Linked DNA regions of Homo sapiens. The protein of the gene in region 7 interacts with the protein of the main gene of each other region in a biochemical or structural test. Each region holds a gene or a part of one and is shown on either strand. Other genes may lie near its edges.

Evidence for each region.
Region 1: the proteins of RNF111 (region 7) and UBE2V2 form a complex in vitro, tested with the Homo sapiens proteins (one study listed by BioGRID).
Region 2: the proteins of RNF111 (region 7) and SUMO1 form a complex in vitro, tested with the Homo sapiens proteins (3 studies listed by BioGRID).
Region 3: of the proteins of RNF111 (region 7) and SKIL, one has a biochemical effect on the other in vitro, tested with the Homo sapiens proteins (one study listed by BioGRID).
Region 4: the proteins of RNF111 (region 7) and UBXN7 form a complex in vitro, tested with the Homo sapiens proteins (one study listed by BioGRID).
Region 5: the proteins of RNF111 (region 7) and SUMO2 form a complex in vitro, tested with the Homo sapiens proteins (3 studies listed by BioGRID, with this or other methods).
Region 6: the proteins of RNF111 (region 7) and UBE2D3 form a complex in vitro, tested with the Homo sapiens proteins (3 studies listed by BioGRID).

The regions. Positions count from the first base shown.
Region 1 is NC_000008.11:48,049,649-48,053,824, reverse strand, and holds part of UBE2V2 (ubiquitin-conjugating enzyme E2 variant 2), read right to left. Parts: intron 3,973-4,176; coding exon 3,847-3,972; intron 1-3,846. UniProt on the Homo sapiens protein: Has no ubiquitin ligase activity on its own. The UBE2V2/UBE2N heterodimer catalyzes the synthesis of non-canonical poly-ubiquitin chains that are linked through 'Lys-63'. This type of poly-ubiquitination does not lead to protein degradation by the proteasome.
Region 2 is NC_000002.12:202,210,717-202,214,892, forward strand, and holds part of SUMO1 (small ubiquitin-related modifier 1 isoform a precursor), read right to left. Parts: intron 3,719-4,176; coding exon 3,641-3,718; intron 91-3,640; coding exon 19-90; intron 1-18. UniProt on the Homo sapiens protein: Ubiquitin-like protein that can be covalently attached to proteins as a monomer or a lysine-linked polymer.
Region 3 is NC_000003.12:170,363,878-170,368,053, reverse strand, and holds part of SKIL (ski-like protein), read right to left. Parts: intron 1-4,176. UniProt on the Homo sapiens protein: May have regulatory role in cell division or differentiation in response to extracellular signals.
Region 4 is NC_000003.12:196,425,470-196,429,645, reverse strand, and holds part of UBXN7 (UBX domain-containing protein 7), read left to right. Parts: intron 1-4,176. UniProt on the Homo sapiens protein: Ubiquitin-binding adapter that links a subset of NEDD8-associated cullin ring ligases (CRLs) to the segregase VCP/p97, to regulate turnover of their ubiquitination substrates.
Region 5 is NC_000017.11:75,176,256-75,180,431, reverse strand, and holds part of SUMO2 (small ubiquitin-related modifier 2 isoform a precursor), read left to right. Parts: intron 1-4,176. UniProt on the Homo sapiens protein: Ubiquitin-like protein that can be covalently attached to proteins as a monomer or as a lysine-linked polymer.
Region 6 is NC_000004.12:102,799,761-102,803,936, forward strand, and holds part of UBE2D3 (ubiquitin-conjugating enzyme E2 D3), read right to left. Parts: intron 2,879-4,176; coding exon 2,801-2,878; intron 1,800-2,800; coding exon 1,694-1,799; intron 1-1,693. UniProt on the Homo sapiens protein: Accepts ubiquitin from the E1 complex and catalyzes its covalent attachment to other proteins. In vitro catalyzes 'Lys-11'-, as well as 'Lys-48'-linked polyubiquitination.
Region 7 is NC_000015.10:58,990,223-58,994,398, reverse strand, and holds part of RNF111 (E3 ubiquitin-protein ligase Arkadia), read right to left. Parts: intron 3,484-4,176; exon of another isoform or gene 3,451-3,483; intron 1-3,450. UniProt on the Homo sapiens protein: E3 ubiquitin-protein ligase. Required for mesoderm patterning during embryonic development. Acts as an enhancer of the transcriptional responses of the SMAD2/SMAD3 effectors, which are activated downstream of BMP.

The DNA.
Region 1 (4,176 bases), on a different chromosome or scaffold from region 7:
CTCAAAAAAAAAAAAAACAGGAAGGGGAAACAAGAGAAAGCCACACACAGAATTAACTCTATTTATAATGTAGTCTTTGTACTAATAAGAAAAAAATCTAGCTGGGCAGGGTGGCTCACGCCTGTAATCTCAGCACTTTGGGAGGCCGAGGCGGGCGGATCATTTGAGGTCAGGAGTTTGAGACCAGCCTAACCAACATGGTGAAACCCTGTCTCTATTAAAAATACAAAAAAATTAGCTGGACGTGGTGGCACATGCCTGTGGTCCCAGCTACTTGGGAGGCTGAGGCAAGAGAATTGCTTGAACCTGGGAGACAGAGGTTGCAGTGAGCCAAGATCGCGTGACTGCACTCCAGCCTGGGAGACAGAGTGAGACTCCATCTCAAAAAAAAAAAAAAAAAAATTAAAAGATCTGTTACAAATAAGACAAATGTTAACATTTGACAAAGCTAGGTGAAGGACACATAGATGCTGGTTCTATCATTCTCTAAAACTTCTATTATGTTAGAAACATTTCTTTTAAAAACAAAAAAATAAATTTATAGTTAAGTGCAACAAAAGAATAAGAGTGACTCTAACAGAGCAATAGAAGGGACATAATTCAAGTTGGAACATCAATAAAGATACTAAAAAGTGGAATTTAGGCTGGGTGCGGTGGCTCATGCCTGTAATCCCAGCACTTTGGGAGGCCAACGCGGGTCAGGAGTCTGAGACCAGCCTGGCCAACATGGCAAACCCCCATCTGTATTAAATTAGCCAGGTGTTGTGGCACACACTTGTAGTCCCAGCTACTTGGGAGGCTAAGGCAGCAGAATCACTTAAACCCAGGAGATGGAGGTTGCAGTGAGCGAGATCATGCCACTGCACTCCAGCCTGAGTGACAGAGTGAGACTCTGTCTCAATAAAAAAGAAAGTGGAATTTACAGTGAGAAATGAAGGACCCATAGGAGTTAGCCAGACTGGGGAGGAAGGAGGAAGAACAGAAGTGCAAAGGTCTTGAGACCAAACGAAAGGCATGCAGGCCAGTGTGCACCTTGAGCACTCCCAGTGAGCCATGGCAAGAAGCATGCATGCTGAGGCTGATGCCCCTAAAGGAATCTGAAGTGCAGAAATGACACGACGCAATTTGTCTCTTAGGAGGATCCCTCTGGCTGCTAACTTTGGAAAGACTGGAAGGGATTTTAAAAAGTAGAATCAGAGACGTTGTTGCAAGAGTCCAGGAAATAAATGATGGCCAATATTCACTTGGTGGCAATGTAAATAGAAAAATAAGACCTAAATCCAGTCACATTTGGAACATAAAACTGACAAGGCTTAATGATAAATGGGTTGGGGGAAGGGAGGTAGAGAGGGAGGCAAAATATCAACTACTGGACCAAAAGCCCAAGAGATCAGATAAGCTTATTAGAGGTAGGTCTGAAATTTAATCTAAATTTCCTAGCTTCCATGACAATGTAGAACACACCATTAGTTACTTAATTTACAGAAGCTATAATGTAAAAACAAAACAGTAGTGGAGAAAACCAGATATGTCTAGTAGCAAAATCTAACAAAGGTCTTCTTCATAAAGGCAATGCTGTGTGTCACACAGGACATTCCCTAAATAATATCTTTTCTGTGTACTCATATGCTTTATAATCCTGCTCCTATCAAATTTCTTAAAAATAGATAAGTGTGCATAATTTCTAGAATAATCACTGAAAGAACACAAACAGAATGAAAGAAGTTGAGAACAACCATTCCAAAAGTAGGCAAGAAACATGTAGAAAAATAGAAACCACCAAATAAGATGATCTGTTTAAACCTGAACATGTCAGTAATTAAGAATATTAAATGTAAATGGACTAAATGCTCCCAGTAAATCACAAAGACTGACCAACTGAGGACTGTGAGGGCTGGAGAGACTCTCAGGTCCCAGCTCTGAGTTGGCACAGGGGTGGGGGGGTGTTAATGGCCCAGCAGGTGCAGGGCTAAGGTTTCCAATGACCTTTCCCAGCTTCTTCCTTTCTCAGGGTCATGCTTTATTTGGCCTGGTGCCTCCCTGCTGGATGCACCAGCCAATCTGGGGCCCCGCCTCAGACCTGCGTATTAGGTTGGGGTTGAGGGGCAGGGAGCTGGCTGTGAATCCAAGATTCAACTTGTTGCCAGAAGTACAGTTATATGAAGGGGAAATTGAGCAAATAAGTAAATGCACTGGGAAGCATGGGAGCCAGGTTTCTCAACTGGAAAGGAAGAATCATAGAACAAACCCTATAGTTTTAGAATAAAATTAGTGGGAGTTGTTAGTATAAACTCGTGATTTTTAACAGATGGTAAACAGATGAGAAGGAAAGAGAGAAGGAGAGAAGAAAGGAGGATGAATTTGTGTACATATGTGATACATTTGTAGTACAAAATACACTGGTAGAGAGAGGGAACGCAGGGATGGGATGAGAAATCAAGGATACTGAGGCCCTATTTCCTAAGATGGATGATACTCATTTTATGATGATGATATGTTATTTTGCTTCCTAAAATGTATTTTGTATGTGGCGTGCTCTCAACATGGCACCAAGAGAGCCTAGGCTTCAAAGACTTATCATGAACTTAACAATCTACTCATACTGGAAATTCAGCTGTTTCTACTAACTAACTTGTGTGGGTCAAGCAGGGCATGTCATTTTGTTTAAAGAGACAATGGGCTGGACACAGTGGCTCACGCCTGTAATCCCAGCACTTTGGGAGGCCAAGGTGGGCAGATCACTTGAGGTCAGGAGTTGAGTCCAGCCTGGCCAACATGACGAAACCCCATCTCTACCAAAAAATACAAAAATTAGATGGGCTTGGTGGCATGTGCCTTGTAGTCTCACATACTTGGGAGGCTGAAGTGGGAGAATCACTTGAGGCCACAGGAAGTGGGGGAGTACCACTGCACTACAGCCTGGGGGACAGAGTGAAACCCAAAAATAAATAGACAATGATGCTCAGCCATGACTGTTTCAACACAGACATATTTGCTCTTTAAAGAAAAAAACCCTTCATGAATATTCATCCTTTTCATGAACAGTCATCCTTTTAATCCCACCAAATGTACCTTAACCCTCAGAAAAGTAACATTCAAAGAGAAATAATGATCATCTCTTTTTTTTTTTTTTTTTGAGACGGAGTTTCGCTCTTTCACCCAGGCTGGAGTGCAGTGGCACAATCTCTACAAGCGTGAGCCACCATGCCCCGCCCAATAATGGTCATCTTTTTACCAAATAAAGATCAACTGAAATATGACTATTAAGGCAATTAAAACCCTAAGAAAACTTTTGGCCAGGCACAGTGGCTCATACCTGTAATCCCAGCACTTTGGGAGGCCGAGCCGGGCGGATCAACTAAGGTCAGGAGTTCGAGACCAGCCTGGCCATTGTGAAACCCCGTCTCTACAAAAATACAAAAATTAACTGGGCATGATGGCAGGTGCCTGTAATCCCAGCTACTCGGGAGGTTGAGGCAGGAGAATCACTTGAAGCCGGGAGGCAGAGGTTGCAGTGAGCCAAGATCGCACAATTGTACTCCAGCCTGGGTGACAGAGTGAGACTCTGTTTCAAAAAAAAAAGAAAAGAAAAAAAAAGTTTTAACCACCACATGCATCTATTCTAGGCAAGTACATTAAGGTTTTTAAGGATGGCCTAATTTATATTAATAAAAGAAAAACAACATAATGCAACCTTCTTTAGACTTTTGGCTTAACAAAGGTCCTCTTTTAAAAACTTTCTCCTAACTACATATTAATATCTTACATATATTATGGTGTGTGTACGTATAATATATAACTCTATACATTATGTTATATAAAACCAAAATGACTATATTAACTTACCATCCCACTGGAATTATTTATTCCGTTCATATTAATTTTTGTTACAAATCTAACTGACGGAGGAGCTTCTGGGTATTTAGGTCCACATTCTACTTTCAGGCTATATATTCTGTTTTCATAATTTGTCTGGAAGGCAAAAAACAAAAAGATAATCAAAATAACAATACCTAAAATATTAATGTCTAAGTGCTAAAAAAAAAAAAGGGAAAGTACAATATGAATGTACGTAAGACAGTGTTTATGATTAAGAATTTATTTTTCTACATTCAAATTTATTTCACCTATATGGTGAGAAAAAATGCAATAAGCATACTTAAAAATTGAGATTTT
Region 2 (4,176 bases), on a different chromosome or scaffold from region 7:
GGAGAAAAGTATACTCACTTCTTTTGGAGTATGATTATCAGCAATTCTCTGACCCTCAAAGAGAAACCTGAGTGAATTCATTGGAACACCCTAAAAAGGTAAAGATAATAATAATGCATACATACACACACAAATATTAGAAAACATAATGGTAACTTTGATGCACAAAAAGCAAGCATGAAAGCCTTAGAACACTACATAGAAAATAAAATTAGACAAGCTAATTCAATCATAAATACTATATACTGTACTGAGTAGCAACTATTTGCAAGGCCCTCCCTGTACCAATTCTTTACATACATAATCATAAGTGTTAAACACAACAACCCTGGAAGGTAGGTATTACCACCTTATCTTCATGTTACAGCTAGGGAACCTAAGGCTTGGAGCTAGCCAAGAATTTAAGCCCAAACCTGTTTCTAAGCCTATGCTCTTGACCACTACTCGATTCACTTTGCCCTAAATCTGTAAGCTAGAATAAAAGATCAGATCAGAAACTGGACGTGCACCCTCACTAGCTTCCAACTATACTGGCGAAATTGGTTTTAAACAGATTACATCATAAAATTTGGTAAAGCACAAATGGCTAGCTAGCTAATCTACCATAAACCTGGATGGCATAGATAGCGCAATATTACAAAATATATTAGTATACATTTTTCTAATCACTCTTCAACAAAAATAGCTGAAAGGGGAGACGGCTCACTTGAGGTCAGGAGTTTGAGACCAGCCTGGCCAACATTATCATAAAATCTGGTAAAGCGCAAATGGCTAGCTAGCTCATCTACCATAAACCTGGATGGCACAGATAGCACCATAAATATTACAAAATATATTAGTATACATTTTTCTAATCACTCTTCAACAAAAACAGCTGAAAGGGGAGAGACGGCTCACTTGAGGTCAGGAGTTTGAGACCAGCCTGGCCAACATAATGAAACTCCATCTCTACTAAAAATACAAAAATTACGGGGCAGGCGCAGTGATTCAGCCTGTAACCCCAGCACTTTGGGAGGCCGAGGCGGGTGGGTCACTAGAGGTCAGGAGTTCAAGACCAGCCTGGCCAACATGGTGAAACCCCATCTCTACCAAAAATACAAAAATTAGCCTGGCGAGGTGGCACGCGCCTGTAATCCCAGCTACTCGGGAGGCTGAGACAGGAGAATCACTTGAACCCGGGAGGTGGAGGTTGCAGTGAGCCAAGGTCGTGTCACTGCACTCCAACCTGGGCAACAGAGGAACACCCTGTCTAAAAAAAAAAATACAAATACAAATACAAAAAAAAATACAAAAATTAGCCAGGCCTGGTGGCAGGTGCCTGTAATCCCAGCTACTCGGGAGACTGAGGCATTGGGAATCACTTGAGTCCAGGAGGTGGAGGTTGCAGTGAGCTAAGACGGCACCACTGCACTCCAGCCTAGGCGACAGAGTGAGACTCTGTCTCAAAAAAAAAAAAAAAAAAAAAATCAATTCCCTGGCCTACAGATGGGGGGCGTAGAGACTATATGAATTTTCTTCAGAGTTATGAAAATTAAATGACGATGAATCTTTTTTTTTTTTTTTTTTTGAGACAGTGTCCCACTCTGCCACCCAGGCTGGAGTGCAATGGCGTGATCTCGGCTCATTGCAACCTCCGCCTCCTGGGTTCAAACGATTCTTCTGCCTCTGCCTCCCGAGTAGCTGGGATTACAGGCGTGCACCACCATGCCTAGCTAATTTTTGTATTTTTAGTAGAGACAGGGGTTTCACCATGTTGGTCAGGCTGGTCTCGAACTCCTGACCTCATGATCCGCCTGCCTCAGCCTCCCAAAGTGCTGGGATTAGAGGCGTGAGCCACTGTGCCTGGCCAATAATGTATCTTAAATACCTATGGCACAGTACACATAATTGAGATTTCAATAAATGTTTCTTTCCCCTGATGAATTTCATCTCAATTTTAACACCCAAAGTTATTACAAATGTGAAGTAGTTGAACCCCAATTAATGTGATTTTATTAAGTTAAACAATTAAAATCTACAAAAACAGAAGAGACAAAAATGCTTATTGTTTTACTTATCCTAACACCTAGTTTCTCTTTCTTATAATAAGTTTTTTTTAATGTGAGTTACAAATTTAAACTGTTAAAAGCAAACCTTCTAAAAATGAAATCTACAGGCCGGGCACGGTGGCTTATGCCTGTAATCCCAGCACTTTGGGAGGCCAAGGCGGGCGGATCACAAGGTCAGGAGTTCGAGACCAGCCTGACCAACATAGTGAAACCCCGCCACTACTAAAAATACAAAAATTAGCCGGGCGTGGTGGTGCATGCCTGTAATCCCAGCTACTCGGGAGACTGAGGCAGGAGAATCGCTTGAACCAGGGAGTCACAGGTTGCAGTGACCTGAGATCACACCACTGCATTCCAGCCTGGGCGACAGAGTGAAGACTCCATCTCAAAGAAATAAATAAATAAATGAAAATAAAATTTACAATACCTGAGTTAATATTATGTAATATAATTCAATTTTTTTTCTTTTTTTTCTTTTTTCTTTTTTTTTTTTGAGATGGAGTCTTGCTCTGTCACCCAGGCTGAAGTGCAGTGGCATGATCTCAGCTCACTGCAACCTCTGCCTCCCAGATTCAAGTGATTCTCCTGCCTCAGCCTCCCGACTAGCTGGGAATTACAGGCATGCGCCACCATGCCTGGCTAATTTTTGTACTTTTAGTAGAGACAAGGTTTTGCCATGTTGGCCAGGCTGGTCTTGAACTCCTGCCCTCAGGTGATCCGCCCGCCTCAGCCTCCCAAAGTGCTGGGATTACAGGCATGAGCCACTGCACCCAGCCTATAATTTAATTTAAGACTGATTAAACATATATTTCTTGCTTATTAAATCATAATTTCACTTAAACTATATCTTGGTTGTCTCATATTAATTCCAATTACATTTATTTTCAAAACCTATTTTATAAGGCCAGGCCTGGTGGCTCACGCCTGTAATCCCAGCACTTTGGGAGGCCGAGGTGGGCAGATCACCTGAGGTCGGGAGTTCGAGACCAGCCTGACCAACATGGAGAAACCCCATCTCTACTAAAAATACAAAATTAGCTGGGCGTGGTAGTGCATGCCTGTAATCCCAGCTACTCGGGAGGCTGAGGCAGGAGAATCACTTGAACTTGGGAGGCGGAGGTTGCAGTGAGCAGAGATCGTGCCACTGCACTCCAGCCTGGGCAGCAAGAGCAAACTCCATCTCAAAAAAAAAAAAAAAGAGAGATAATATACTAATAATACTACTACTTAAATTTAACATATGGCTAAACACTCATGATTAGAAGTACAAAAACAATCCATAGTAATCACCAAAAAATTACTTGCCTTTTTTGCTATATATACTGGTAAGCCATCAAGACAGAAACATTCATTTGAGCTCGCTTTTACAATTCTGAGTTACTTTTCAAACTAGTTCCCATCTTACGAATTCAAACTTTAAAATGGGCCACAAGACAAAAAAAGCAGTTAAGCAGGGTACAAGAAATGATAGAGTGTTTTCCTTGAGTTGCTAATGGTGAAAATAATAAAACAGGATTTTTCTTCTGACAATCTTCTATAAAAAAAAAAAAATTAACGACAAAGCATTGTACTTAATACCAAAATGGACGAACCTGTCTTTGACAGTATGATTCTTTGAGTTTCTTGAGATGTGTTGTCATTTTCACTTTGAAGTGAATCTCACTGCTATCCTAAGGAGATAAAAAAGAAAAAAATTATCCCTCTTTGTATAAATCATTTGCTTTACTTGAACCAAACTATTTAATTACACATATAGTGCAAATAGAAACATAAACCTTGTAACCTGTATTTTTCCACCACAATATTCTTTTTAGCATTCTTAACAGGTTTTCTTAAAACAGTGTAATCATCCTCAAAGTTACTGTATACCCATTACAAAAGAAACCGAGTAAAACAAAGTTAATCAGTCTTGAGTGTTAAAATTATCAGTATAAGTAAAAGTCTAAGTAAATGCATTCCTTCATTTGCCATTCTATTGTCAAAATAAAAGATGAACTATCGCATCTTTTATTTATCCCAATAGCAACTCAAAACAAAAAGTCTGTCCCCCCAAGTGAAGTGTCACTGAAGGTGGTCGCCTAGGAGAAAAGCAGTTAATTAGATAATAATTAATTGTATAAAATTCAAT
Region 3 (4,176 bases), on a different chromosome or scaffold from region 7:
TAATACAAGTATAATTAAAAGCTTGCAAGAGGGGAGAAATATTTTGTACTATTATTACTCCAATGATCTCTACAGAAATGAAGAAGTGAAACGAAAATGCAAAATTAAACTCTCAAACGGCTAATACGCTTTCAGGGAAAAAAAATTTTTTAAGTTGCTATCTTTAGGTCATCTGTTTGTATCATAAGTAATCTATAGAGATTTTTCCCCCCTAAGTAGATTAAAAACTAAAATATTTTACTTACCTAAGAGTAGTCCAGTCTAAATGTTAAAAGTTTAAATTTTAGCCAGGCACGGTGGCTCACGCCTGTAATCCCAGCACTTTGGGAGACTGAGGCTGGTGGATTGCCTGAGATCAGGAGTTCGAGACCAGCCTGGCCAACATAGTGAAACCCCCATCTCTACTAAAAATACAAAAAATTAGCTGGGTGTGGTGGCAGGCACCTGTAATCCCAGCTACTAGGGACACTGAGGCAGGAGAATTGCTTGAACCTGGGAGGCGGAAGTTGCAGTGAGCCAAGATTGCGCCATTGCACTCCAGCCTGGGCAACAAGGGCGAAACTCCATCTCAATTTAAAAAAAAAAAAAAAGGGTATATATAGTTCTTAACTTAGTAAAGTGGAGACTGTCAGCCACATGCTACAATAGGGAAGAATCGGCCAGGCGCAGTGGCTCACGCCTGTAATCCTAGCACTTTGGGAGGATGACGACGTCAGGAGATCGAGACCATCCTGGCTAACACGGTGAAACCCCGTCTCTACTAAAAAAATAGAAAAAATTAGCCAGGCGTGGTGATGGGTACCTGTAGTCCCAGCTACTCAGGGGGCTGAGGCAGGAGAATGGCGTGAACCTGGGAGGTGGAGTTTGCAGTGAGCTGACATCGCGCCACTGCACTCCAGCCTGGTCAACAGAGCGAGACTCTCGTCTCAAAAAAAACAAACAAACAAACAAAAAAAGTGAAGAATCACCTACAACAAATGACCACTTCCAATATGTTTGAAAATAATCTTAAGTAAACATTACTCTTCAAATTTTATTTACAAATGATTAATTTGCCTGTTGATCTTTTTTTCATACAAACGTAATATTCAACAAAATTAGAATTAGATCAAATTTATTTTAATTTTCTATTTTTGTTTACATATATTTGATCTACTTCTGATTTTGCTGAATATCCACTGAAGATGTGAAAAAGAATCAGGAATGTGATGTTTGCATGTATTTATACAGTTTAAAGTAAAATAATGATTATTCCAATAAAAAACACAAAAAGCTCGTATCAGGTAAGTAACTTGACAACATTCTGTAGAACAACATAGGCAGATCTAAAATCAAGTATGTGTGTGTGTGTGTGTGTCTGTGTGTGTGTGTGTGTGTGTGTTTTGAGACAGAGTTTCACTCTGTCACCCAGGATGAAGGGCAGTGTGAACTCGGCTCACTGAAACCTCCACCTCCTGGGTTCAAGCCTGCCTCAGCCTCCCAAGTAGCTGGGATTACAGGCGTGTGTCACCATCCCCTGCTAACTTTTGTATTTTCAGTAGAGATGGCGTTTCACCATATTGGCCAGGCTGGTCCCGAACCCCTGACCTCAGGTGATCCACCCAACTCAGCCTCCCAAAGTGCTGGGATTACAGGCATGAGCCACCGCGCCTGGCCTAAAATCAAGTATATTTCTTATGGCGACTTGAGTAAGAAAGAGTTATTAGCTATATTTAATTAAGTTGTCTCATTTCAAATTATTTATAATTTACAAGATACTACAACTTATTAACATTAAAATGTATTAATATATTACATATTTTATAATTGTAAAATAATTAAGTTGTTTCATTTCGAACAACTTACTGAGTTTCAGGACTTTTTTTAATCCAAAAGCAATACTTTGATTACATAAACTATATACGCATGTCAAATCATGTCAGTATTCACACCAAACATCAGGTCCTTTACATAACACGTTAATATATTTAGTACAGTCTTAAAAAAAAAAAAAAAAAAGGCCAGGCGCAATGGCTCATGCCTGTAATCCCAGCACTTTGGGAGGCCGAGGCAGGTGGATCATCTGAGGTCAGGAGTTCAAGATCAGCCTGGCCAGCATGGTGAAACCCCGTCTGGACTAAAAATAAAAAAATTAGCTGGGTATGGTGGCAGACGCCTGTAATTGCAGCTACTTGGGAGGCTGAGGCAGGAGAATCGCTTGAATCCAGGAGGCGGAGGTTGCAGTGAGCCAAGATCGCGCCATTGCACTCCAGCCTGGGCGCAAGAGCGAAACTCCATCTCAAAAAAAAAAAAAAAAAAAAAGCCTAGTTTGACTTTTTAAAATGAGCTCCCTCTGGGTCAATTTGGCTTGTTTGGCAACCAACTCAATGACTCACAGAAGAAAATAAAAACTGTTCCTCAGTCAAGGACTATCTCATTCTCAGTTAAATACCTTAGTATTTAAATTTATATGCAGGTTAAAACAGAGTTTGAGAACCATCATAGAGGCTGAATATCCCTTATCAGAAATGCTTGGGACCAAAAGTATTTTGAATTTCTGATTTTTTCAGATTCTGGAATATGTGCACGATATGGCAGTTGAGCATCCCAAATCCAAAAATCAAAATCTGAAATACTCCAATGAGCATTTCCTGTGAGTGCCATGTCAGCATTCAAAAAGTTTTGGCCTTTAGAGCATTTCAGATTTTGGATTTGGGATGCTCAACCTGTACTAAGGTAAATTGATAAGAAAAGTTAATGTTTCTCAAAATTCAGTTTCTGCTACTAACATGTGCTTCAGGGGCAAATAGTGAAAAATTACTAAACTTCGAGTTAGAAGCCCTGTATTCAACTCCTGATTCTGGTTATACAACCAGGAGCATGTGACTCATCTAAGAGGTGGAAATATTGTCATTCACCTTCCTCACAGACCCTAAAAAATAAGTGTACTTCACAATGTTCTGAGTACGTTTTTAAAACGTGAAGTGGTAAGCATAATAAAACAACCACTCAAGTACGTATTAAATATGAACCAAAGAAAAGAATCTTTCTTAAAGTATGGGTGTTTGAAATTTTCTTAAATTCCTTTAAATTTCTCAAATTCACATAAAATTACAAGCAATATCAAAATACACCACAAACACTAATTCAAATACTGCAAAATATAACACAGCAAAAAGATCAGAAAGAAACTCACACCTTCCTAAAATCGAAAATGTATTCAAATCAGTGAATTCTGGGACAAAAAGGGATTACATCCCAGACGAAGGATGGTTTCAGTGTTAACCAAACCTCAGCACATTGTTTCAGTTAAGTAAATTAATCCATCATCTTTTTTTTTTTAAACCTTTATCATGGTTCTCAGATGTTTTTCACATAAACACAGAGCAAGAATATTAGGAAAAGTAGTTTATCCAAAATACACTTATGTCAGACTAATAATTAGACTGGGGCGGGCCAGGCGCCATGGCTCATGCCTGTAATCCCAGCAATTGAGAGGACGAGGAGGTCGGATCACCTCAGGTCAGGAGTTAAGACCAGCCGGCTAGGCTGTAAAATCCCATCTCTACTAAAAATACAAAAAACAAGCTAGGCATGGTGGTGGGCACCTGTAACCCCGGCTACTTGGGAGGCTGAGACAGGAGAATCACTTGAATCTGGGAGGTGGAGATTGCAGTGAACTGAGATCGCGCCATTGTACTCCAGCCTGGGCAATAAGAGCGAAACTCTGTCTCAAAAAAAAAAAAAAAAAAAAAAAAAAAAAGACGGGAGCAACAATATCTGGCAAATGTGGCCTCCAACAGACATGTAAGAGTAGACCACCACTGGGCATGGTGGCTCACGCCTGTAATCCTAGCATTTTGGGAGGCAGAGACAGGCGCATTGCCTGAGCTCAGGAGTTCGAGGCCAGCCTGGGCAACATGGTGAAACCCCCTCTCTACTAAAATACAAAAGAAATTAGCTGGGCATGGCGGTGGGCGCCTGAAGTCCCAGCTACTCGGAAGACTGAGGCAGGAGAATTGCTTGAACCCAGGAGGCAGAGGTTGCAGTGAGCCGAGATCGTGCCACTGCACTCCAGCCTCGGCGACAGAGCAAGACTTGTCTCTACAAAAAAAAAAGTACAGCACCTAATTAGCTTGGGGGCAAGATATCACAAATATCAAAAGGGGCATTCCACATTTTGAAATATAATCTCTG
Region 4 (4,176 bases), on a different chromosome or scaffold from region 7:
TTATAATTAAAAGGTATTTTATATTTATTTTAGTGACCTTAATAGCTTATGCTCTGATTTCACAAAGGTTTTACTTGGAAGCTCAATATTCTTGTAAAAACAAATGCATCATCAAAAATGTGAGTCCTTACTTTTTAGGCAGGAGCAAAAAAAAGAAAAAGAAAAAATAAAAATAAATGTGAGTCTTATCTTTTTTTGGCATTTAGAAATAGAACGGAAAATTGAAAGATTTTAGAAAAGTCTTATTTCTTACTGAATAGAACAGATCTCTCTCTGATTCAGTGAGTATGAAATAATGACTGATGTTTTTTTTTTTTTTGAGACGGAGTCTCGCTCTGTCACCCAGGCTGGAGTGCAGTGGCGTGATGTTGGCTCACTGCAAGCTCTGCCTCCCAGGTTCACACCATTCTCGTGCCTCAGCCTCCCAAGTAGCTGGGACCACAGGCGCCTGCCACCACGCCTGGCTAATTTTTTGTATTTTTAGTAGAGACGGGGTTTCACCGTGTTATCTGGGATGGTCTCGATCTCCTGACCTCGTGATCCGCCTGCCTCGGCCTCCCAAAGTGCTGGGATTACACGTGTGAGCCACCGCGCCTGGCCTAATGACGGATTTTTGATTTTTTTTTTTTTTTTTTAAGAGATGGAGGTCTCCTCTCTTTGTTGCCCAAGCTGTTCTCCAGTTTCTGGGCTCAGCCATCCTCTTGCCTCAGCCCTCCCAGTAACTGGGGCTACAGGTGCACATCACTGTGCCTGGTTCAGTAATGGCTGATTAAAAAAGATTATTAAAAAGACAATATCATAAAAACTTTTTTTTTTTTTTTTGAGACGGACTGGGTCTCACACTGCCACCCAGACTAGAGTGCAGTGGTGTGATCACGGCTCACTGCAGCCTCTAGGGTAACTTTCTTTATTTTTTGTGGAGATGGGGTCTCACTTTGTTGTGCAGGCTGGTCTTGAACTCCTGGGCTCAAGCAATCCACCCACCTTGGCCTCCCAAAGTGCTGGGATTACAGGCGTGGGACACTGCACCTGGCCGAAATAATTTTGATAAAAGGGAAAAGAACTAATTCTCCTTCTCACAACAGCAATATTTATTTTACATATTATCTTCCACTTCTTGTTTATATGCTTATTTTTACATTGTGGATCATAGTATATACAATTTCTGAGATTTCTTTTTCTTTTTTTTTTTTTAAAGACGGTCTTGTTCTGTCACCCAGGCTGGAGTACAGTGGCACAATTATAGCTTGCTGCATCCTTACCGCCTGGGCTCAAGTGATTCTCCTGCCTCAGCCTCCAGAGCAGTTAAGACTACAGGCATGTGCCACCATGCCCAGCTAAAATACACGGTTCTGAAATTTTCACTTAACATTATGCTACAAACCTTTTTTGCATGGTCAGACTGATAAGCAGGTAGCCAAGAGAAGTGATGACCTTTGAAGTAACCACACTGAGAAGCTGTATACAGTATGGTTTACCATTGATGCTTGCTTTTTGTTTGTTTTTGTTTTTGTTTTTGTTTTCGACAGAATTTCACTCCGTCACCCAGGCTGGAGTGCAGTGGCATGATTTCGGCTCACTGCTGTCTCCGCCTCCTGGGTTCAAGCAGTTCTCCTGCTTCAGCCTCCGCAGTAGCTGGGATTACAGGCTCAAGCCACCATGCCCGTCTGATTTTTGTATTTTTAGTAGAGATGGAGTTTCACCATGTTGGGCAAGCTGGTCTCAAACTGACCTCAAGTGATCTGCCCTCCTCAGCCTCCCAAAGTGCTGGTATTATGGGCGTGAGCCACTGCAACCGGCCCCACTGATGCTTTCTGTGTCATTTAAAGCTACATAAGAAAACCAGTCTTGTTACTTTTATAGTCATTCCACATTTTACAATACTACTGTTTGATCTCCTCTGATATTTATCATACATGGCTTTGAATTACTGTTGAAAACTCAGAAGTCATATCAATTCTCAAAACATGAAGGAAAAATATGCAGCTGGATCTATTCTGAAAGAGCAATTTTTAAAAATGTTTTGAAGCCAGGTGCGGTGGCTCACGCCTGTAATCCCAGGCACTTTGGGAGGCCAAGGCGGGTGGATCACCGGAGGTCAGGAGCTTCAGACCAGTCTGGCCAACCTGGTGAAACCCTGTCTCTCCGAAAAATACAAAAATTAGCTGAGCATGGTGGTGCACGCCTGTAGTCCCAGCTACCCAGGAGGCTGAGGCAGGAGAATCTCGTGAACCCAGGAGACGGAGGTTGCAGTGAGCCGAGATCCAGCCACTGCACTCCAGCCTGGGCGACAGAGCGAGACTCTGTCTCCAATTTTAGTATATGTGCTGCTGAAGCGAGCACAGAGCGAGACCCTGTCTCAAAAAAAGAAAAAGTAAATAAAAGTAAAAATGTTTTGAGCCATGGCAGTATTCCATTAGCACCAACTTTGGGCTGACATCCACTACACATATACACTGGTGCACATGTGTAATCAGAATAATTCATGGAGTGAAGGTGAGGGATACATAGACACTATAGAACAGGTGAAAAATAAGCTAGCAGTCTAAGGACAAATGTGAGGGCATAGAAAGTGGAGGCTAAGAAGAGTACAAGAGGTTACTGGTACGGAAATTCATAGAGCTTTGTGCATAGCGGCAATAACATACTTGAGAAAATTATAGAACCTCAGTTGTAGAAGAGACCTTAATCTTTCAGATGGTTGATGAGTGCATATTTATTATAAAAATTAGGGGCTGTCATGTTTGTGGTATTTAACTTTATGGCCAATTTCCATTCATGTTCTTTTTTTTTTTTTTGAGACAGAGTCTCACTCTGTGGCCCAGGCTGGAGTGCAAAGGTACGATCTTGGCTCACTGCAGCCTCCACCTCCCGGGTTCAAGCGATTCTCCTGTCTCAGCCTCCTGAGTAGCTGGGATTACAGGCATGCGCCACCACGCCCGGCTCATTTTGTATTTTTAGTAGAGACGGGGTTTCTCCATTTTGGTCAGGCTGGTCTCGAACTCCCGACCTCAGGTGATCCTCCTGCTTCGACCTCCCAAAGTGCTGGGATTACCGGTGTGAACCACCGCGCCTGGCCTCATTCATATGCTTTTGTACAGAACATTTCCTTTCTCTTGGGTTAATATTAAACTATGATTAAGTTCTCTGTGTCTGGAAAGGTGGTCACAGTATTATAGATGTTAAGAGAAAACTTCAGGAATTTTAAGAATAGTTTCAATAGGGAATACATTTCAGAATTTCTTTTTTTTTTTTTTTTTGAGACGAAGTCTTATCCTGTCACCCAGGCTGGAGTGCAGTGCTGTGATCTTGGCTCATTGCAACCTCCGCCTCCCCGGTTCAAGTGATTCTCCTGCCTCAGCCTCCTGAGCAGCTGGGACCACAGATGCGCGTCACGACACCCAGCTAAATTTTTTGTATTTTTAATGGAGATGGGGTTTCATCTTGTTGGCGAGGCTGGTCTCAAACTCTTGACCTCAGGTGATCCACCCACCTCAGCCTCCCAAAGCGCTGGGATTACAGGCTTGAGCCACCATGCCTGGCTGAAGTTTCAGAAATTTAAGGGAGGTAATTTTGAGTTGCGAATGGAATCTTACTAGTAGATTCATTTATTGGTAGACTGCTACGTGCCAGGCATGGTTCACATCTTAAGGATACAACTGTGAGCAAGGCGTGGTGTCTGTCCTCAGAAAGCTTAAAGGTTAACAGGAATAGAGACACACGAATAGGTATTAGAATACAGTGAGAGAATGGTAAGGAGCTAATACTGGAGCACAAAAGAGGGAGGTCAAGAAAACCTTCCCAGAATAAATACTTTTTTATCTAAAATCTGGAAGATGTTTCTTGCAGGAGAAACATGCAGAGACTTGGAGGGGAATTGGGCAGACATGTATACAGACAGAGATGAGAGAGGGGAGACAATCGGTTTAGGGAATTGATAATTCCAAATGAGTAAAGCACAGCTAGTGCAATAAATGGACCTCAAGAGATAAATGGGAGATTGGGTTGGGCCTTATAAGCCATGTTAAAAAAAATCTTGTCTTTATTCTGAGAATAGTGGGGAGTCAAGGGTTTTAATTAGAGGAGTGAGACTGGGCACTGTGGCTCACACCTATAATTCCCGCACTTTGGGAGGCTGAGGTGGGAGGCCTGGAGCTTGAGATCAGCCTAGGCAAC
Region 5 (4,176 bases), on a different chromosome or scaffold from region 7:
CAAGAAGTCGTTTTTTTTTTTTTTTTTTTTTTTTTTTTTAAGCTGGGAGTCTCACTCTATTTCTTTTAAGCTAGAACTTATCTACCTTGTAAATTGTGTTTTATTTTTGTTTTTGTTTTTGATGGAGTCTTGCTCTGTTGCCCAGGCTGGAGTGCAGTGGTGCAATCTTGGCTCACTGCAACCTCTGCCTCCTGAGTTGAGGCTATTCTTATGCCTCAGCCTCCTGAGTACCTGGGATTTCAGGCGTGCGCCACCACGCCCGGCTAATTTTGTATTTTTAGTAGACCTGACCTCAACTCCTGACCTCAAGTGATCCGCCCACCTTGGCCTCTCAGAGTGCTGGGATTACAAGCATGGGCCACTGTGCCTGGCCCCTTCAGATTGTTCTAAATAGGCTCAAAATAGAATAAGGCTTAAACCTATGTAAGTTGGGAAATTGAGTTTGAGTTTATACTTGAAAGATCAGTGAAGATAAAAACTTCCTTTAGGCCTGATGCAGTGGCTCATATCTGTAATCCCAGCACTTTGGGAGACTGAGGCAGGTGGCAGTTGACATCAGCCTGGCCACCATGGCAAAATCCCATTTCTACTAAAAATCCAAAAAAATTAGCTGGGCGTGGTGTTACACGCGCATAATCCCACCTACTCCGGAGGCTGAGGCTGAGAATCCCTTGAACCTGGGAGGTGGAGGCTGCAGTGAGCCAAGATCACACCACTGCACTCTAGCCTGGGTGACAGAGCGAGAGCATTTCAAAGGAAAAAAAAAAAAAAACTTTAGAATGTTTGAAGTATTTTTATGCCTAGTGTATTTACAATGTAATAAGAAAATACTGTGCTCATAATTGATATGTAAACCTTCTTGTATGTAGTTCCTTATAAAGATACCTTTTTTTTTTTTTTTTTTGAGACAGAGTCTCGCTCTGTTGTCCAGGATGGAGTGCAGTAGTGCAATCTCGACTCACTGCAACTTCTGCCTCCCGAGACCAAGCGATTCTCCTGTCTCAGTCTCCCGAGTAGGTGGGACTACGGGCGCACGCCACCACGCCCAGCTAATTTTTGTATTGTCAGCAAGATGGGGTTTCACCATATTGGTCAGACTGGTCTTGAGCTCCTGACCTCAGGTGATCCACCTGCCTCATCCTCCCAAAGTGCTGGGATTACAGGCGTGAGCCACTGTGCCCAGCAAGATACCATATACTCTTATTTGAAGAATTTTGCTGAAATCACCCTACATGAACTTATGAATTGTGTTAAATAATTTATAAACTGGCATCTTCTATATTTGAACACTAGTGCCCCTTCAGGATACAGGGGAATTTTAAAAGGTAATCCTTTTGGAGAACTTCTTTAGCAAAACTGCATACAAAATAGAAAATCATAGGCTGGGCGTGGTAATCCAGCACTTTGGGAGGCCAAGGCTGGAAGACCAGTCTGGACAACATAGTAAGACCTCATCTGGTTTTTTTGTTTTGTTTTGAGGTGGAGTTTTGCTCTTATTGCCCAGGCTAGAGTGCAGTGGCGCAATCTCGGCTCACTGCATCCTCCGCCTTCCAGTTTTAAGCGATTCTTCTGCCTCAGCCTCCCAAGTCACTGGGATTACAGGACCTCGTGAACCACCCGCCTCAGCCTCCCAAAGTGCTGGGTTTACAGGCATGAGCCACTGCGCCTGGCCCAGACCTCATCTCTTAAAAAAAAATTAGGTGGTTGTGGTGGCACATACCTGTAGTCCAGGCTATTTCAGTGACAGAGGTGGGAGGATTGCTTGAGCTTGGCAGGTCTAGGCTGCAGTGAGCCATGATCTCATCGCTGCACTCCAGTGTGGGTGACAGAATGAGACCCTGTCTCAAAACCACAAACAAACAGAATCATGCTTCAGTTTGGTGGTTTTGAACAGTATTCTTTTCTTTTTTTTTTTTTTTTTTGAGAGTCTCGCACTGTTGCCCAGGCTGGAGTGCAGTGGCACCATCTCGGCTCACTGCAACCTCTGCCTCCTGGGTTCAAGCGATTCTCCTGCCTCAGCCTCCCAAGTAGCTGGGACTACAGGTGCGTGCCACCGTGCCCAGCCAATTTTTGTATTTTTTGTAGAGACGGGGTTTCACAATATTGGCCAGGATGATCTCGATCTCTTGACCTCGTGATCCGCCTGCTTCGGCCTCCCAAAGTGCTGGGATTACAGGTGTGAGCCACTGGTGCCTGGCCTTGAACACTATTCTTATGCATATCTTATTTAACTTTTCTGCAATTGCAAAATTTTGCCTTTTTTTTTTTGAGACAGGCTTTTGCCCTGTTGCCCATGCTGAAGTGCAGTGGGAGGATTATGATCATGGCTCACTGCATCCTCTGCCTCCCAGGCTCAAGCAGTCCTCCCACCTCAGGCTCCCAGGTAGTTGGGACTATAGGCTTGTGCCACTGGGCGATTCTTTTTTTTTTTTTTTTTTTTTTTGAGACGGAGTCTCGCTTTGTCGGTCAGACTGGAGTGTAGTGACATAATCTCGGCTCACTGCAACCTCCACCTCCCGGGTTCAAGCAATTCTCCTGCCTCAGCCTCCTGAGTAGGTGGGATTATAGGCACCTACCACCGTGCTCGGCTAATTTATTTTTCGTAGAAACGGGGTTTTACCACGTTGGCCAGGCTGGTCTTGAACTCCTGAGCTCAGGTGACCCACCCGTCTCGCCACCTCGGCCTCCCAAAGTGCTGGGATTACAGGCATGAAGCACTACGCCTGGCTTTTCTTTTCTTTTTTTTTTTTAAGATGGAGTTTTCCTCTTGTTACTGAGGCTGAATGCAATGGCGCAATCTAGGCTTACTGGAACCTCCGCCTCCCAGGTTCCAGTGATTCTCCTGCCTCAGCCTCACAAGTAGCTGGGATTACAGGCATGCACCACCACGCCTGGCTAATTTTGTATTTTTAGTAGAGACGGGGCTTCACCATGTTGATCAGGTTGGCTGCTCTGAAACTCCTGACCTCAGGTAATCCACCTGCCTTGGCCTTCCAAAATGTTGGGATTATAGGCGTGAGCCACTGCACCTGGCCACCATGCAAATTTTTTAATTTCTTTTTTTTTGAGATGGAGTCTTGCTCTGTTGCCCAGGCTGGAGTGCAGTGGCATGATCTCAGCTCACTGCAACCTCTGCTCCTGGGTTCAAGCAATTCTCCTGCCTCAGCCTCTTGAATAACTGGGATTACAGCGCCTGCCACCTAGCCTGGCTAATTTTTTGTATTTTTATTTATTTAATTAATTAATTTTTTTTTTTTTTTGAGACAAGAGTCTCGCTCTTGCAATGGCACGATCTCGGCTCATTGCAACCTCCACCTCCCGGGTTCATGCAATTTTCCCCCCTCAACCTCCGGCTGGAGTAGCTGGGACTACAGGTGTGTGCCATTGTGCTCAGCCAATTTTTGTGTTTTTAGTAGAGACGGGGTTTCACCATGTTGGACAGGCTGGTCTCGAACTCCTGACCTCAGGTGATCTTCCACCTCAGTCTCCCAAGGTGCTAGGATTACAGGCGTGAGCCACAATACTTGGCCTTTGTTTTTAAGTAGATGATGGTTATATACTGTTTTTCATCCCTTTTATGCCACTGATACTTACTGAGCAGCACCTACTATGTGCAAGGGATAGACTGTGTAACTAAAACAGTCTAGGTTCCTATATCTCCTGAAGTGTGTTTTTTAGTAAGACAGTAAGTAATTACAGATTTGGGTAAGTATTAAAGGAAATTAAAAAGCGGTGCTTTTTTAAAGCTATTCCAGGAAGTTCAAGGGTGTAGGTTGGGGCATTTTAGGTCGGTTTTGTTGTTGTTGTTGTTGTTTTTGATATTGAATCTGGTCTGTCACCCAGGCTGGAGTGCTAGGGCACGATCTTGGCTCACTGCAAACTCCGCCTCCCAGGTTCAAGCGATCCTCCTGCCTCAGCCTCCCGAATAGCTGGGATTACAGGCGGATGCCACCACACTCGGCTAATTTTTGTATTTTCAGTAGAGGCGGGGTTTCACCATATTGGCCAGGCTGATCTTGAACTCCAGACCTCAGATGATCTGCCTTGGTCTCCTAAAGTGTTGGAATTACAGTGTGAGCCCCCGAGCTCAGACTGGAGTCTTTAAATGGGCATTTTTTTCCTTTAAATTTCCTGTTAGTGGCCAGCCAGGCGGATCACGAGGTCAGGAAATTGAGA
Region 6 (4,176 bases), on a different chromosome or scaffold from region 7:
GCCATATTAATATATATATTTTAAATAGGCATAAATGATATTAGAACTTGAGTTTCTTGGTACTCAGTGGCTGGGGGGGGGGGGACTTTAGCAAGAATATGCAGGTAACACTCATGCCATATTCATAGCCATTAGGCATGATGAAAAATCCATTCTTAGCCGTTGTCTTGGCAATTTCTGAGAAAAACCCTCAAGTGCTCCACTAAATGTCTCCTTGAACTTGTAAGCAAGAAACCATATTCCCAAGAGTACTAGTTAAATACAATGCCAAAATCTCTTTAGTACTAAGTGAGTCATCAGCTCTAGTTTTTACCTTAACCAGTTCAACATACTGATGTATAAGATGTCAAGCATTAAGGAACATAGATCGCATTCACTTTGAGTGCCTGCTATGTGCCAGTCACCATATATGGTGGTGCTGTTATAAAATGTTAAGATATAAATGCTTGAAATGGTTCTGACCGATTTTTTTTTAAAAAAAGCAATAGTATAAAAAAGACAACACTGTCACATATTTATTGACTACAGCAAATTTAATTTCAAACCCCAAATACAGCAGAATATAAAATTACCTAATATAGGAGACTTGGCTATACAATAACTCACAGAAAAAAGGTAGCTTCAGTTGTGACTGCTAGTTTAATAAGTTAGCAAAGTATGGCTGCCAAAAAAGTAAGTTGCTTTAACGACAAAACAATACCAATTCAATCTGCCCTTACAAAAACAGTTTTCAGTGTTACTGTACACTCCCAGCAGTAGTAGAAAAACTTGGAAACTGATATTTAGGTATGTAGCATGATTTGAAAAGAAATTAGAAAGCATCCAAGAAGGTGAAAAACAGGTGTAAAATTTTAAAAACACTCGAATTATGGCAGCATCTGCCTAAGTTGTTTCTTTTTCTCCCTTAAGTGATTCTACTCAATAAAGTTTGGGAAATGCTACTGCTACAGTCTCTCTCCATGAGATTCAAGTGCAGTATATACACATATGAAACTTTTATACAATGCCTTGCCTTTTGAAAAAGCTTTTTTGTACTTACTGAACTCATAAAATCAAAAAACAATTAATGGTGAAATAGTGTTAATTATTACAACTTCACCTGGGATATTCATGCGGAGACCGGAAAACTTGTTACATATAACGTAACAGATACCTATTAAGAGACCAGAATTGATCTACAGATCTTTCGAAGATTATATAATTTTAGACTGTCATTAGGTAGAAACAACCTATCATGGTTACATAAAACATGACTGAAGATTTGTCTAAAAATTAACCCAGGAAAGCAAAATCAGAATTTTCCTAGAGTGGAAACCTCAGGATTCAAAAGCTCTATTAAGTTTAGGTATATCATACCATTCTTGGTAAAAAGGCCGCAAGTTAGTGTGAGATGTCCAAGTGGTTTGGGATTGAAAAATACAGAAGTCTATTAAAATAAATTTTGCTATTATAAGATGAGATGAAGGTAACTCATTAGGCAAATAATGCCTACTCACCACAATTTGAATTTTAACAACTTCTCACAAAGTATCTTTAATCAACACCACTAAAAGAACAAAAATTATAAAAGTAACTTTATTGCTTCCCCATCTCTTACCAAAAAGCTGCCATAATAAAAATACTCAGATAAGTAGATCTAAGAATGAAGCTTTATTAGACAATGAGAACAGCTTATTTCACTAGAAATATTTACCTTTAGAAATTGTTAAAGCAGGCGACCACTGTGATCTTAGAATATCGAGACAAATGCTGCCATTACTGTTAATATTTGGATGATAAATTCTTGTTGTAAATGCAACCTAAAACAAAAACTTTTAAGTATTTTATTCAAATAAAAACAAACATCTTTTAAAGCAAAACTTAAAATAATCAAGCCACAATGTTAAAAATGTCATCTATTAGCATAGAAGTTCTAAATATTATAGAAACTGATTTTTACAATCTGACCACAACCCCCTGCCTCCTCTTTTTACAACAGAAACCTAAACTTTTGGATAAAAATTTCATTACTCATATGATGTAAAGTTCTAAAGGTTACTGTGGCCCTACCATATCATGAATCAAAGGGCAATTTAAAGGTATTTAACACATTCATTTATAAAAGCCCTAACTTTTGGATGTAACCAAAATTTGTAGACCATCTCATTTAAAGTTTCATTAAGTTACACAGGTACACCTGAGTCTGCATTTCCACCGTACATAAAACATAAACTTGAATCACAAAAATGGAAACCATCACATTGCACCTATAACATTACTAGAGATTGTTATAGTGACATGTTTATGACCTTTGTATATTACCTTTTCTAGTTATTCATACAGGTTGAATTTATGTTAATGACTGAAAAGTGAAGGATAATATGCTTTTAATACCTATAAACCAGTGCACTAAGCAACTCTAAGTTTTCACAAATTTACACTTACGTATACAAAACTATAAGCATAATAAGCATATGCTGTAACAATACGTGCAAATATAAATTGAAGTTGGACATTTGATGCTTACAAGACAACAAAAGCCCAAAAATCAGAATCTGTGTAACAATAATACAGATGAGGGCGGAAGCTTCCACATGGTCTGAATCTTGCAACATTAAAGAAAAGGCAAACCTTATTCCTATTTACAAAGCTCAAACTGAGGTCTAGCTCTTTAAACCAAAGGTTAAGAGTCAGCATCTATACATGAGTGCAATTCAACATATATATACAGCCTACACAGAACCCTATCTTCCAAGAATGCTCTATTCCTTTGAAATAAAGCATAAATCTATACTAACAGATTTTGAGGGAAAATACTTGCCTTAGGTGGTTTGAAGGGGTAGTCTGTAGGAAAATGAATTGTCAAAAAGAATACACCGCCTTGATATGGGCTGTCATTCTGTAAAAAGAAAAGTATGCTTAACTCAAATTTAAAATATTATTGCTAAATATTCCGTAACATTTGTTTCCAAGCATTTCTCTAATAATGAACCCAAATCACCTATTTACACTGCAATAAATAATCTATTCCATGAAAATTCAGTCTATAGTAATAGAAAAAAACTTAAAACTTATACAGTAATAAACCCTAATTTATCTAGTCATTTTACACGTCACCAAAATGTTTTTTTAAAAAGTTATCCAGAAACGCAAGTATTCTAGATCTCAATTCTCAAAAGTACAACACAGCAATAAAGCCTACATAATCATGTTTCAGAATAATCTGTAAACAAAATTTTACACATGTAGATTATTTCTTCCAATAGCCAGATGTGTACAAATGGCTTCACAACAGTCCATTCTGCCCACTGGCAAACCAAATGTTAGCTATTCCAGGTAACACACACACACCACCTTCAAGAGGAGAACAGAGAAAAGCCTAAGCTTCTCATTTTAATCAATACCAGAAAATACATGCATTGCCCCTATTTTATGCATGAGAAAAATGAGGCTTAAAGAACTTAGTCTAGTGTACAAATGGTAAATGATAGAACCAAGATTCAAACACAAGTCTTTTGAAGACCACTTAATGATCAAAGATACTGACCTACTCAGGAATTTAAAGTTAAAATGTGGAATGCCTAACTGCTTCTGGGTATGCAAAGAACCAATCCGAAGACATGTTTTACAACTTACATGAACTGGGTTTTTACCAACACTGACTCCCCTCTATTAGAAAGGCTTTGTATATACAGCTATATATGAGCCTTTCACTATGCCCATTCTGGATGTCAGGCACATAAAAAACAGGCCTGACACTAACACAGCTCATCTAATTCCTACCCTTCTGTAAAATAAATAAACATTAATTCAATTAATCTAACCCCTTGCTATATACTGTATGTGTGTTAAGGGATCCAAAGAACAATTTTTTTTATCTTGATGAGCTTACACTGATAGACATGTAAAGTAACTGCAATGAAATGTTATAGGTATCATGAAATATGAACAAGGGACACGAGTTCAAAGAAGAAAGGTCAATTTATTAATGAAGAATCAGGTTCAAAGAAATATACAACTAGTAAATGGAAGAGCTTTTATTTATTTGAGACGGAGTCTCACTCTGTCGCTCAGGCTTAAGCGCAGTGGCACGATCTCAGCTCACTGCGACCTCTGCCTCCTGGGTTCAAGCAACTCTCCTGCCTCAGCCTCCCAAGTAGCTGGGATTACACATATGCACCACCACACCCAGCTAAT
Region 7 (4,176 bases):
CAGTACTATTTTTTAAATCTTTCGGTAAGTTTGAAATTATGTCAAAATAAAAATGTAAGTAGCCAGGCGTGGTGGCTCACGCCTGTAATCCCAGCACTTTGGGAGGCCAAGGCGGGAGGATTACTTGAGGTCAGGAGTTCGAGACCAGCCTGGCCAACATAGCGAAACCCCATCTCTACCAAAAATATAAAAAATAACCTGAGCGTGGTAGCGTGCACCTCTAATCCCAGCTACCTGGGAGGGTGAGTCAGGAAAATCACTTGAAGCTGGAAGGTGGAGGTGACAATGAGCCAAGATGGGGCCACTGCACTCCAGCCTGGGCCACAGAGTGAGACTCCATTAAAAAAAAAAAAAAAAAAAAAAAATTTAAGTAACAACAAATTGGGATGTCAAAAGATAGTAAAATAAGTAATTTATTCGAGTGCCCTATAGTACATATGAATAAGGGAAATGACTACAACATTGATTCAGACTTGACACCTAGCCATATATAGAATTTCTTAAATTTTCTATTTGGTAGAAAAGGAAAAATATTTTTTAAGAATCCAATCACATACAAACTAAACTAAGATGCTAATCGTGTATGCCCTCAGGAAAACACAAAAATCTTCTCCATGTTAACACAATCCACACTGCCAAACTCTCCTTTCCACCAGCAAGCCATAAGCCCCTTCAGGCAGGTGTTAAGAGCCTGCCCTTTGTTTTAACTCAAGCACTGGCACAGTGCCTGAAATACAACACTCCTGTTTGTTGAATAAATACTGAACATTTACAAATAGAAACGAAATACTGTATTTTTATCAAAATGAAAAGAAGCGTGGAAGGGAACAGACACTTAAATATGGTACTTTCACAAATTTTGAGATGGAGTCTCACTCTGTTACTCAGGTTGGAGTGCAGTGGTGCAATCTCAGCTCACTGCAACCTCCACCTCCTGGGTTCAAGCAATTCTCCTGTCTCAGCCTCCCAAGCAGCTGGGATTACAGGCACCCACCACCACGCCCAGCTAATTTTTGTATTTACAGTTATATTTTTTTTATTTTTGTGTTTTTAGTAGAGACAAGGTTTCACCATGTTGGCCAGGCTGGTCTCGAACTCCTGATGTCAGGTGATCCACTCGCCTTGGCCTCCCAAAGTTCTGGGATTACAGGTGTGAGCCACTATACCTGGCCACTTTTACTAATTATTTTAAAACATTTTTATTTACAATTGAACATTTTCTTTTTTTTGAGATGGAATCTTGCTCTGTCACCCAGACTGAAGGGCAGTGGCGCAATCTTGGCTCACTGCAACCTCTGCCTCCTGGGTTCAAGTCATTCTCCTGCCTCAACCTCCCAAGTAGCTGGGATTACAAGCACCCGCCACCATGCCCGGCTACTTTTTGTATTTTTTAGTAGAGACAGGGTTTTGCCACGTTGGGCAGGCTGGTCTCAAACTCCTGACCTCAGGTGATCCGCCTGCCTCAGCCTCCCAAAGTGCTAGGATTACTACAGGTGTGCACCACCATGTCCAGCCTAAACATGAATGAACGTTTTCAAAAATATATTATTTTATTTTATTTCATTTACTTATTTATTTTGAGATAGGGTCTGGCTTTGTCACCGAGGCTGGAATGCAGTGGCACAATCTCGGCTCATTGCAACCTCTGCCTCCCGGGCTCAAGCCATCCTCTCACCTCAGCCTCCCGAGTAGCTGGGACTACAGGCATGTGCCATTATGCCTGTCTAATTTTTGTATTTTTTTGGTACAGCCAGAATTTCGTCACATTGCCCAGCCTAGTCTCAAACTCCTGGGCTCAAGCAATCCACCTTCCTCAGCCTCCCAAGGTGCTATGATTACAGGCATGAGCCACTGGGCCCAGCCAAAAAAATATATTTTAAAATATGAACAATTTTCAAACCTCACAAAAGCAGAGAACAATATTATTAATACCCATGTACCCATCACCCCAACCCAACAATTATCCAGATTGTGCCAGACCTGCTTCATCTATCTTATCTCCCTCCACCACATTTTTTGGTTTTTATCTGGTATCTGTTTAAAATAACAGACATTGCTGGGCACGGTGGCCCACGTCTGTAATCCCAGCACTTTGGGAGGCCGAGACGGGCGAATCACCTGAGATCACGAGTTCAAGACCAGCCTGGCTAACATGGTGAAAAACCGTTTCTACTAAAAATACAAAAAGTTAGCAGGCGTGGTGGCGCGCTCCTGTAATCCCAGCTACTCAGGAGACTGACGCAGAAGAATTGCTTGAACCCGGGAGGTGGAGGCTTCAGTGAGCTGAGATCACACCACTGCACTCCAGCTTGGGCAACGAGGGAAACTCCATCTCAAAATAAAATAAAATAAAATAAAATACCAGACATTTGCAAGTTTTCTCCCTCATTCCTCAGTCTCTATCACTAATAAAAAGTGGTCATTTTCTTACATAAACATAATGCCATTATCATCCCTAACAAAGTTACAATAACTCCTTGATATCATCTAATACCCATCCATATTCAGATTTCCCCCAATGTTTCAAAAATGACTTTCTACAATTGGTTTGAGTCAGGGTTTAAACAACACCAACATATTGTATTTGGTTACTACACATAAAATAATTTTAATCTGTCTACATCATCTGACAGCAAATATGAAAAGCTTAACAGACAAACCAAATAATTAATTTACATTTGTAGATTCTCTAGAATCAAACCTCACCTAATGCATTTGCCGCCCCTGCTATCTGTAGCAGTCTTCCTCCAAATCGTCACTATGGCTGATTTTTTCTAGTCATTGAAGTCACAGGTCAAATTACCACCTCTAAAAAGGCCCTCCCTAACCACTCAATCTACAGTAAAACCACTTCCATCCATGCCGTATCACATGGTCCTATTTTCCTCATGGCACTTACCACTACCTGAAACCATTCTGTTTATTATGTTCCCACACACAGAACAGAATGTCAGCTCCATGAAGGCAGAGTGCCTTCACTGAAGACCAGTGACTGTGCCTAGAACATGAGACATTCAATAAATGTATCTACGTAATAATGCAGTACCGCTCTTTAAAATGTAAGCTCAGCTAAGTATTTGGAGGCTTTTTTGTTGTTTTGTTTTTTTTCAAGATGGAGTCTTGCTCTGTCACCCAGGCTGGAGTGCAGATCTCAGCTCAGTGGAACCTCCACCTCCCGGGTTCAAGCAATTCTGCCTTACCCTCTTGAGCAGCCAGGATTACAGGCGCATGCCACCACCATGCCCAGCTAATTTTTGTATTTTTTTTTTAGTACAGACGGGGTTTCACCATGTTGGCCTGGCTGCTCTCGAACCCGACCTCATGATCTACCCGCCTCGGCTTCCCAAAGTGCTGGGATTACAGGTATGAGCAAGCGCACCCAGCCTCAGCTAAGTATTTGTCTTTAAATATTTGTAATTCACTCCTCATGTAATGATATAAATTGAGTACCTGTAGAAACCTGGGCCAGCTGTTACCAAGAATCTGTAGGATGTAGGAAAGAAACAAACAGAGGTATAAGACATTCAAATGTAATTGTGGACTTTTACTGAACAATAATTACAGGTTTCTGAAAGAAAAACAAATTATTCCAGATGATTTTTAAAATGTTACCAGGAGTAATAAAAAATTTCATTTTTAGTACCATCTGAAAGCTATTAAAGCTTCAGTAATTAATATCTACAATGGGACAACAATAGCAATAATATGTGGAACAACAATCATAGTTTTTTTGTTTGTTTGTTTTGAGAAACAGTCTCGCTCTGTCGCCCAAGCTGGAGTGCAGTGAGTGGCACGATCTCCGCTTACTGCAACCTCCGCCTCCGAGGTTCAAGCCATTCTCCTGCCTCAGCTTCCCAGGCAGCTGGGACTACAGGCGCACACCACTAAGCTCGGCTAATTTTTTGTATTTTCAGTAGAGATGGGGTTTCACCATTTTGGCCAGACTGGTCACCTCAAGTGATTCGCCCGCCTTGGCCTCCCAAAGTGCTGGGATTACAGGGGTGAGCCACCACGCCTGGCCCACAGCTTCATGACAGGTTTTACACATACACATTTCATGAGGGAATTGATGCTTTTTGTACAGCATTTCTTTCTGGGGATTCAATTACGACAAACACAACAATGAATACCAAAAACCTAACTAGATATACAAACCATTAAATTTGGGACCTAAAG